2 separate regions of the Homo sapiens genome follow, and region 1 is linked to region 2. The links come from fine-mapping of genetic effects on gene expression. A gene starts in region 2. The other region holds a variant in brackets. All regions are shown on one strand. Distances are from middle to middle.

Region 1 (5,384 bases), 38 kb after region 2:
TCTAAAATAAAACAATGTTAATTAACATTTGTATTGAAAGATGTCTGAAACAATTCATATAAAAATGTGCTCTTTTCTAGAATAATGTGTATCACTAATGAAATACATATTATATATATTTTACATAACATTATATGTGTGTGTATATATACGTAATGTATATATACGTAATATATATACGTAATGTATATAAATGTGGAGAGTGTGGTTTGGAATTTAGATGCACTCATTGTTTAAAAAAGAATGTAATTTTCTCTGCCTTAGAAAACTTGGTGGTCACAGAAGGATAGGAGGATACTGGCAGCTTGGAAGGCTGAAGGAAGAGGCTTCATGGGAGAAAGAGACCTAAGGAATCTCTAGTCCCTAGGTACCTGGAAATCCATACACATCCCCCTGACCAACCAAAGTCCCAGTTAGGAAAACATGGATATTGCCTACAATATGCGCCCCTAAACCCCTGCCCCCAGCGCCTTCTCCCTCTGCCCGGACCACAGACCGTTCCAGGTGTCCCAGAGCCACTTGGGACCATGTGAACTCAATGAACAAGTGAGCAGGTTCTTCTTGTGGGTTTCAAATGAATGTATGGCAGGACCATCTTCAGACCTGTTGAGACCTGTTGAAAATCTCAACATCCTGCTAAGTTATACTGCCAGGAAAGAGACTGGCCCAACTGGATGGCTGTGGCCCCTTCGGTAGAACTTTCTGTCACTCGTTTCAGGCTTGGCATGAAGCACAGCTGCAATGTTTTGCCACTTTTCCTTGAACTTTGTTACCTTTTCGTTTAATGATTGCCAACCTCATGGGCACTCCACTGTGCATGGAGTCGGGTATGGAGGAGTGAGGTGGGTGCAAAAATAAGTCAAAATATCTCTATCCTCAAGGGCTTTATGGTCTAGCAGAGGAGGTGAATATATAAGCAACAAATTATGAGTCAAGACAAGATGAAAAAAATGCTAAATGGGCTCTGAATCTGAAATGACACAGAGCAGGATCTTTGATCTCAATCTCCTGACTAAATCCAGAAATACACCAGTCCCTCCATAACGACTCAATACTTATGTCAGTAGTTTGAGAAAGGAGTTTAAAATATCAGCTGATGAAGAGACTCTTCATGTTTAACTCCCTGCAAATATTTTTCTGAACAGATATGACTATTTTCTAGTATATGTAATCAATACTGTTTTCAAATAGCTTCTGTGAAATTTGCTAGAAAGATTCACCTAGAATGGTCCTAGCCCCTTCCTATCAGAGCTTGGGGAGCTCCTCTCCCTGCCCTCCACAGGATAGCCCTGGAGGGGATCTTAGGTTGAGCTTCTTGAAAATCGGTCATTTTTATGTAAAGAATTGGTGTGAACAGAGGCTGAGGCAGAAGAATCACTTGAACCTGGGAAGCAGAGGTTGCAGTGAGCTGAGATCGTGCCACTGCACTCCAGCCTGGGCCATAGAGTGCGACTCCGTCTCAAAAAAAAAAAAAAAAAAAAAAAGAATTGGTGTGAATGGTCCCTTTCCTCTGATAGTGAGCCCCCCACTTTCCTATCTGCAATGCAGTTTCTTCTAAATGAAATAGTGTGATGATTTTAAAAATTCAGGCCTGGGAGGCCAAGGCGGATAGATCACTTAAGCCAAGGAGTTTGAGACCAGCCTGGGCAACATGGTGAAACCTTATCTCAAAAAAAAAAAAAGAAAAGAAAATTAGCCGGGCTTGATGGCACACACCTGTAGCCTGTAGCCTCACCTACTTGAGAGTCCGAGGCATAAGAATCACTTGAGCCCAGGAGGCAGAGGTTGCAGTGAGCAGAGATAGTGCCATTGCACCCAGTCTGGGTGACTGCAGTAAAACCCTGTCCCAATAATAAATAAATAATAATAAAAAAATTTTAGGTCTGTGTCTTTTTTTTTGTTTTTCACATCAGGGTCCAACCACAGAAAATTGGGGACAGTGCCAAAATGGGACTATCCAAATGCGCTTCCGTGTGCGCCTCAAGTCTGTATTCTCTTTACCTCTCAGCAGTGAAAACTTCATGCCCCCTAGAATGCTGTCAAGGGGAGGTGCTGCTGGCAGGGAGTGCAACTGCCCAGGCTGGCTTCTCTGGAAGCAGTGGCTGAGATAAGAGTCTGGGCTTCAAATGTGTATTAGGAATTAACCTCCGTAAAAAGAAGGAGGGGTACTGGGCAGAGGAAGGAGCTGAACCTAGATGATGCTGGCCTCAGAAAACCCAGGCCACTCGGGAGAGCCATGGAGCTAGGGCTGCACCATGATAGCTGGCCTTGTATCCTGGCCCTGCTCAGCCACCAGGCACAGCTGCCCTGGGAAATTGTGACCTCCAGCGAGGGAGCAGCTCTCTACAGCTGAGGCTGACCTTGAAGTTGCGGACAGCTAGAGGCTGTCTGCTGACCACACTTCCCAGGGCTGGGCTACAAGTCCTTCCTTGACCTTGTGGCACATCTTTGTGTCGATCACAGGAATGACCACGGGGGGCCTCAGAGGTCTCTGCTCCCTGAGCTGCTGCCTCTTGCAGTGTACAGGTAGATGATATTCAAGGTTTATGTGCTCGATGCTATAGCTGCTCTATGGTTTCTCTGGATGCACCCTGAAGCTACTTGTTCCAGGGTATGCTAGGACCAGGACAGCCCCACATACATGGGAATACTTTTCCGGAATTGCCATGTTAAATTCAAATGATTTCCTTTCTTTCATCAATATGAATCTCTGCTGATCACCTTCAAACTCCCTCCCGCATGCTTAAATGGAGGCTGTTCATTCAAGGACAATACATCAGTAAGATTTTGTTTATATCCAAACTCTAACATCACAAGAAACATTCTCAGGGTGCCCACCCCATGGGGGGATTGTATAATCAACTCACATTCATTAATGTAGTATGTGCTGACTTAAAACCCAACGGGAATTTAATGTAACTTATATTATGCACCTGTTGTGTATTGGGTAAGGTACAGTGTTCAGTTCCCTGGAATGTAGAATGCATGTAATTACCCTCTTCCAAGTTAACAAACAACCCCAGGTAAAG[T/G]TAAATAATCAACAGAGTGAACCAAGGATTATGCATTAAAATAATTTTGGTGTTTTGCTGATCATATGCCCAGTGGGGTTTGGAAGGTTGCACAATGGCATATTGCTAAACATTCCAATGCCACATTACCACAAAAACACAAAACACAAAAACGTCACAAGGTCCAGAAAGACTCCTCGTGTGGACTTTGCTTCTTTATTTGCCAGGAAGCAGTTTGGCCCGAGCAGTTCTTTTTTGACTGTAGGAAGTTGAGGGCAAAGTAAATCTGGCAGACAATGAGCCCTGGGCCAAGCTGCACTCTTAGGATAAGACAGGCTGTGAAGAGGGCCCTGTGGCCAACTTCCCGATGAAGCTGTTGGCACAGAAGAGAAGGGGAGCAGGAATCCTGGCTGGCAGCTTTTACGGGAGTGACTGAGCAGCTTTTTTTTTTTTTTTTTAGATGGAGTCTTACTATGTCCCCCAGGCTGGAGTGCAGTGGCACAATCTCACCTCACTGCAACCTCCGCCTCCCGGGTTCAAGTGATTCTCCTGCCTCAGCCTCCCAGGTAGCTGGTATTACAGGTGTGCACCACCACGCTGTGCTAATTTTTGTATGTTTTATAGAGATGGGGTTTCGCCATGTTGGCCAGACTGGTCTAGAGCTCCTGGCCTCAAGTGATCCACCCGCCTCAGTCTCCCAAAGTGCTGGGATTACAGGTGTGAGTCACCACGCCCAGCCCTGGGCAGCTAGCTATCTTGATAACATCTGCCATCTAAGAGGACATTCATTTTGCCAATTTTATTGTCACCAACAACGTAATATTTACCCTTGGAAGTGATAAGACTAGGTGGATCTACTCTCTTCCTACATTAAACGGGAAGTTGATATAATCACTGAAGCTGCTATAAGCTTCTTTGAATAGCAGAGCGTAGACCTGGTGAGACAGACCAATGCCTTCAGATCTGAGCTTAACAGAGCCTGCCTATGATGACTAGTGACAGGTGCTTGCACACTATTTTCCACAGGCCCATCTGGACTGCACACACTCAACGGATGCCAATTACATAACGATCATACACAGCTGGGAATAGACCCACTTGTACAAAATGGATCCAGTGGTAATGGTGTCTCCCCATTCTCACCTTCATAGCGATGCTTTCAGAAATTCATTAAAGTTTGTTGAGTTTTGATAGTTGAAACTTAAAAAACAACAATGCGTACAACATTTCATTTACAGTTTCAAGGTTTCCCAGAGTTTAAAAGAGTTCTGAATAACTTTAATTGCCAAAGTGTTACAACTCAAAAATAGACCTAGCAAATTTGCTTGGCAGTAAGAATGCTGCTAATTTGACATATGCCCATACATTTTTGAGAGACAAATGTATTTTTAATCCATTTAGGTGCCAGGGGTACTCCAAGCCTGCACATGTTTGAAGTAAGGACAATCCCTATAGGTCAGTGTCCTCATTCATCAGAGGACGGTGGTCTCACCCCAGCTGATTTGACATTTCTTTTTTCCCCGAGACGGAGTTGCGCTCTTGTTGCCCAGGCTGGAGTGCAATGGCACAACCTTGGCTCACTGCAACTTCCGCCTCCCAGGTTCAAGCGATTCTCCTACCTCCCACTTGGTTTGACTCTTCAGGCACACAGTTTGATGCTTAACCATAGCATCAAATACTTGTTCTCCAATGGTTATCAGGGTGTGTAAACTGACTCAATAGCTCTCAAAAACTTAGCTGAGAGAAAGACTATACTTATGGAAGTTTGCCCCTAGTGTATGCATCAGAGATAGCTCATTAAGTACTCTAAATTTACCCCTGGCTTGAGGCAGATCAAAACAGCCTCACATTTTGGCCCCATTATTTTGGACTATGCTCGGTGTTAGGATTTTTCTGAACTCTGAGACATTGTGGAGAACAGGAGCCCCAGGAGACTGTATTTTGCCATAGAGGTGTGTACGGTGAAGAATTAACTTTATCCCAACATAGATCCAGACTTATCCCAGCTCCTGGAAGGGAGCCTCTAAACCTTTGGAATTCCTCAAGTGATCCGAGTGTCTTAGTCATTCATGGTAGACCCCCAGGACCACATCTGATTGTTTATGCTAACCATTTGACTCTGGGAGAGTTAGCCTTGCCAGAAAGACCAACCATATGATTAGCCAGGAACAAGACAGAGTCTTGATTGGAGGGCAAACTGTGTGGCACACTCAATTAAACGAAAAGGTGGCAGATTGTAAGGGGGCTTTTCAGGAAACTCCTCCAACAGCAGAGCTCAATGGGAACAACGTGGGATTTTAAAGCCAGACCTGGGTTCACAACTCTAGTTAATGCTTCTTACGAGTGGTGTGATCTTGGGCGGGACTCTGGAGCTTC
Region 2 (5,384 bases):
GTCCACCACCAGGCCCAGCTAATTTTTGTATCTTTAGTAGAGACGGGGTCTTACCATATTGGCCAGGCTGGTCTTGAACCCCTGACCTCGTGATCCACCCACCTCGGACTCCCAAAGTGCTGGGATTACAGGTGTGAGCCACCATGCCTGGCCAACTTTTTTATATTTTCAAATCAATTGTTGCCAAAGTGGCCTTCCTTTAAAAGTGTATCAGATTTACAGTTGGATACAATTTTTTTTTCATTTTTTATCCCTCATCACCTATTCCCAAGTCAAATAACAGATCTTTATCAACACTTTCTGTACAATAAAATGTCAAGCTCCGTAACAGCAAAACTTAACCCCACACAGAGTTTACCTTAAGTAAACTGGTTGCTTTGGGATGATTTAATCAATGATATCAAATAAAATAAACTTCTAGTAGGCACCACATGAAGAACTGGATGACCAAAATCTATGGGCTGCTCAAGTTCAAAACTGGCAGGGAGGTTGAAAAAGGTATTGGACTAGGAGCTTAGATATCTTGGGTCCCATTTCTGGCTCTGCCACTTACAAGTAGTGAAGGGTCACCTAACTTCTTTGGACCATTTCCACTTCAGTAAAACAGTTTATAATTCTTGACCAATCTTCTGCACAGGATTGTTCGGATGATCAACAGAGATACAAGTTGAGTATCTCTCATCTGAAAATCTGAACTCTGAAATGCTCTAAAAAATATGAAACTTTTTGAGCACTGATATGATGCCACAAGTGAAAATTCCACACCTGACACCTTTGCTTTCTGATAGTTCAACGTATACAAACTTTAATTCATGTACAAATTATTAAAAATATTGTATACAATTACCTTCAAGCTAAGGTTATGTGTATAAGGTGTATAAGAAACACAAATGAGTTTGTGTTTAGATTTGGGTACCATCCGTAAAATATCTCATTATGTATATGCAAATACTCCCAAATCCAAAAAAAAAACAAAAAACAAAAAACACCAAATAACACCCGTTCCCAAGCATTTCAAATGAAGGATACTCAACTTGTAATGTATAGATTCAGAAACACGAGCTAGAGAACACTATAGGTATTGTTTTACTGCCAGGAAAAGGAGCCCAAGAGAGGCTAAGTGACTTGAAGGGCTACACAGCCAGTGGACGACGGAGCCAAGAGTGAAATTCACAACCCAGCTTTTTAGTCCTGGAGGCTTTTCCACACCACCTGTTGTCTCTTCTGTTATAGCTTCTATCCACTGAACTTTGCACATTCAAAGTGACCTCAAAGAGCCCTCTCAGGTCACTTGGACCAATCTTCTACTTGCTTTTTTTTTTGTCTTTTTGCAAGCCACCTCAAAGAGCACTCTCGGGTCACGTGGACTGATCTTCTACATAAAAATCTGTTCTACCGCATCATTTATGTATGTTTGGGCAAAGTACTCATAACCATTTCCAAGGCCAATAAAGCAAATGCTTTGCAGGATGCCGTAATAAAAATAAAACTTTCTTTGCAGTATGTACAAAGTCAGACTGCTTTACAAGTCAAAAACCTTTGCTCAAGTCCAGCCTGTGCCATTTAACAGGATCGAAAAAAGAGCTAGAGTTGGATGGGAAGGAAGAGAGAGTGGTTTGGTGAAGGAACCTTGGTTCTGACACTAGCTCTCTGCCGACCTTGGACTGGTCATGTGAAAAACTCTTCAGACTTCAATACCCCCCGAGTGTGGAAAAGGGGTGACGACAGCAACACCCTGAGTCTTCCCCTCGCAGGAATGCTTTGAAACTGTTAGGCGGGACTGCCGCCGGTGCGCAGTTTTGGGAAGCAGCGGACTCAGCGGGGTCCCAGGCTGCCCAGACAGGACGGATTGCTGGGGGGCTCAGGCCGTCCTGCCCCGGGCTCCGTGGGCGGCGGGGTGGGGACAGGGCGTGGGCGCGTCCCGGGGGGACCTCTCCTCTGGCTTCCTCCGCCCCGCCCCGGGAGACCGGGTGCGGCCCGAGCGGGTCACTCACCGGGCCAGGAGCTCTAGGAAGATCACGTTACTGCAGCAGCCTGCGAACACCAGGCCCACCGCCAAGGCCGGGCGCATGGCCGGTGCAGGGTTGGGGAAGCAAGCGCACAGAGTAAGCGCCCGCCTGTACCGCTACCCCAGGAAGCCGGCCTCCTGCCTCTTCGCTGCGCAGCACATCGCACCGTCCTGGAAAGCCGCTCTCACTGGGGGCCGCCGCGGTCTCCCCTTCTCCCGCGGCCAACACCGACGCTGCCAAGAAGCTGTAGTTCGCAGTCAGCTTCGGTCCCATTCATCCGAGGGGGCGTCCGAGCCCCGGCCAGACTACATGTCCCAGGATGCCGTGCACCTTTACCTCAGGATGCGACGTTCCCGCTTCCGCCAGGCAGCTCCGCCAGAGAGGACAGGGGGACGAGGTGCCCGGCATGACTCGCGCGATAGGCGGCCGCGGGTCTTGCTGGGAAATGAAGTCCCAAAGCGTCAGTGTTTCTTGCGAGACCGCCCAGAGCGCTGAAAGTAACTCGGCCGCCAGGGTCACAACAAACTTGCTGGCAGCGGCGGCACTAGAACTACAGAGCTGTGACTGCTCGTTGGAGGTGTTCTAGCATCTGAAACAACTCTGCTTCCTGAACTGATATATATATATGTATCTTTGGTGACTCTATTATGCTGCCAGGATTAAGAACCACTGAGAATTCAAGTAAAGCAATGGCTCTCAACCACGTCTGTACATTGGAATCACTTGGAGAGCTTTAAAGATGACTGATAGCCAAGTCCCACCCCCAGCGATTCTGATTTAATTAGGCTGAGGTGCAGCCTTAAAGGTGATCTATTGATATTATCCCTAATCCTAGCTCTTTAAGGTACTCCCTTCCTTTACCTCCGTGGTTCTCAAACTTAGCTGCGCAGTCAAATCACCTGGGGGCTTTGAAAACTGCCAACGTCCAGGCTCTTCTACTGGCAAAAATGCCAATATCAGCAATCAGATCTTTAATGGTGAAAAGAAGGCATACTTCCCTCTTCTTACAGTGGAATTCTCATAGCACTTACAATCTGAGCCATTCGACTTGACTCTTACTTACTCAATGAACAAATGTTTGTTAAGCACATATTACGTACATAAGCTAGTGCGGCACTATTCTTTATTTGTAAAATAGGTATGCACACTTTATCCACCCAGCAAGACTAGTTTTTAAGGGAAACGTGTTTACACTTCCTTTCTGCTTCCCAGTGTCTACTATAAAAGGTTAGCATCACTGCTCAGTATTTTACCACATCAAATATTTCCGTTGTAATTGAATCCAACAGCAATAGCAAAGTACACGGTACAAAGCTAGGTAGGATTTTGGAATGCTATATTGTTTTTGCTATTTCCTGTGAGACACGAACATTCTGAAGTCTTTCTCGAGATCTACAAAATAGTTTGGAATGCTTTTTTCCCAGTCCGTGACTGGGAGATCACATTGGAATCATCTGAAGTACTCGTTATCGAGTGCAGATTATTGGGTCTCGCTTTAGACCTACCAAGTCAAAATCCTTGTGTATGGGTTCTAGAAACTTGTATTTTTAACAAGCACTCCACGTTCTAATTCTAATGCATTCTAGAATTTGAGAACTGCTGCCTTAAAAAGGTGAGTAGGAAGAAGAACTAACATAAATAGAAAGCCTACTACCTGTGAAATTCAGTATTTAATGAGCACCCGTCTTGAGTTTGCACAGTGCTGGCACATTAAACAATGAATTATATATACATATATACACGTATATATACCAGTTATATTCATATACACATATATACACACACACATATATATATATATATAACTGGTATATATACAGGTATATAATAGTACCAGTTCTACCTCAGACCAAGTAAAGTGGACTATCTGGGAGTGAGGCTGAAGCAATGATAATATCTCCACCTCCACTATCAATAATCCTGCCAACAGGAAGCTGGTCTGGATTTTCATCTGGATTTCATTAGAGGTGATTTCTCTTCACACAGACCTTCATTTTCCATATATGCCACTAATTTGGAAGCCCTTAAAGGATGTTCTAAACATTTCTCATTACATCTCAGATAAAAACCCAAGCATGTCTAAGTGATTGCACAAGAAAAAAATGGCCTGAGTACTGTAATATTTGCAAGAGTTCTGTATCTTTCTTCCTTCCTCCACATTTCTGTCTTCACCTACTGCAGTGAGTATTAATTTAATGTGCATGTTAATCACTTGGGGATCTTGTTAAAATGCAGATTCTGATTCACTAGGCCTGCAGCATGGCCTGAGATTCTGCATTTCTAAGTAGCTCCCAGGTGATGCTGGTGCTACTGACCTGTTGACTGCACTTGGAGAGCAGAAGCCTGTAAAATCATTAACTCTGAAGACCTCTCTATCCTCCCCTCTCATTTGCTCAGAGAACTCTTGCTAGCAAACCTGTTCTCAGACCAAAATCATGCTCAAAGAAACTAACTTATCTTTCTTCCTCCCTCATTTTACCATCAACTCTCTTTAAAGAGTAATCTACATTCGTAGTCTCTACTTGTTAAATCTCCAATCAGCTTCTTAAACTACTCTGATCAATGCCAGGGTATTAAAAGCAGTCCTGTTGAGAGCCGTGATGACTTCTTAATTGTGAAAACCATATAACACAGTCTCACCTTACTTGATCTGGCAGTGGCTTTTTACAATGAAAACCCAATATTTCTTGACATTCTCTTGTCCCTCTGTTTATAAGACATGAGTCTCCTGTTTCTCTTTTGACTTCTCTGACTTACGCTTTCCAGTTTCCTTAATGGGCTCTCCTCCTCTGACCACTGGGTTCTCCTTTCAGAGTTCCATCATTTATTCCCTCCTCTCATTGCCCTGCACATGTTCTCTTGGCGATTTCACCTCTGGAACTTCCACCACTGCCATATGGAATAGTGATCCTGCGTGTGTGTCTATGTACAGCCCCCATCTCCCTTGTGTCCTTAATCAAAATTTCCAGTGTCTTTGGAATGTTCACTAATGTTTCCCTGTAAACCCCTCACCATTAGGGCATACACATTTCATTACCTACCCTCCCTAATAGGCCTTTATTTCTATTAAGAACATTGTACTCTACTTCTTCTCTTTGGGAAAAACCTGAAAGTTTTCGGTCTTCCTCTTTTTTCCACTGCACATTTATTTGCTCTTTATATCCCATCGGTTCCACCTCACAAGTATCTCTAGATTCCAGCCTTTCTTGTCCATTCCCATTGACATCCACTTCTTCTCCCGTAAAGGCCTCCTAACATCTTGGTGCCTTCAGCCTCTGTGTTCTTTAACCCATCCTCCCTGCTGCCTCCAGGCTGATTCCAAAAACAAACCCAAAATCTTCATGTCCCATTGCTATTCTAAGATGTCTTTTCTAA

Alleles and levels. Positions count from the first base shown, and alleles are read on the strand shown. Sizes are in standard deviations (SD) of each study's normalised expression.
In carriers of allele T in region 1, the expression in kidney cortex of the gene that starts at base 2,250 in region 2 tends to be higher than with G alone (small effect, 0.36 SD a copy in GTEx).

What was found. PIP is the estimated chance that this variant, and not a neighbour inherited with it, causes the effect.
Region 1: its variant is the best candidate, but not a certain one, in a credible set for the expression of SLC35B4 in kidney cortex (GTEx, PIP 0.60).

Annotation. Positions count from the first base shown.
Region 1 is chr7:134,352,900-134,358,283 of GRCh38, forward strand. No RefSeq gene overlaps it. Among named protein-coding and RNA genes, the nearest start is that of SLC35B4, 39 kb to the left of the region's middle. The variant T/G (reference allele first, on the strand shown) is at 3,030.
Region 2 is chr7:134,314,681-134,320,064 of GRCh38, forward strand. It overlaps SLC35B4 (solute carrier family 35 member B4), which reads right to left and starts at 2,250. Exons shown (of 10, transcript NM_032826.5): 1 at 1,995-2,250. The coding sequence starts at 2,071. RefSeq lists a silencer at 1,791-1,960 and an enhancer at 2,041-2,770.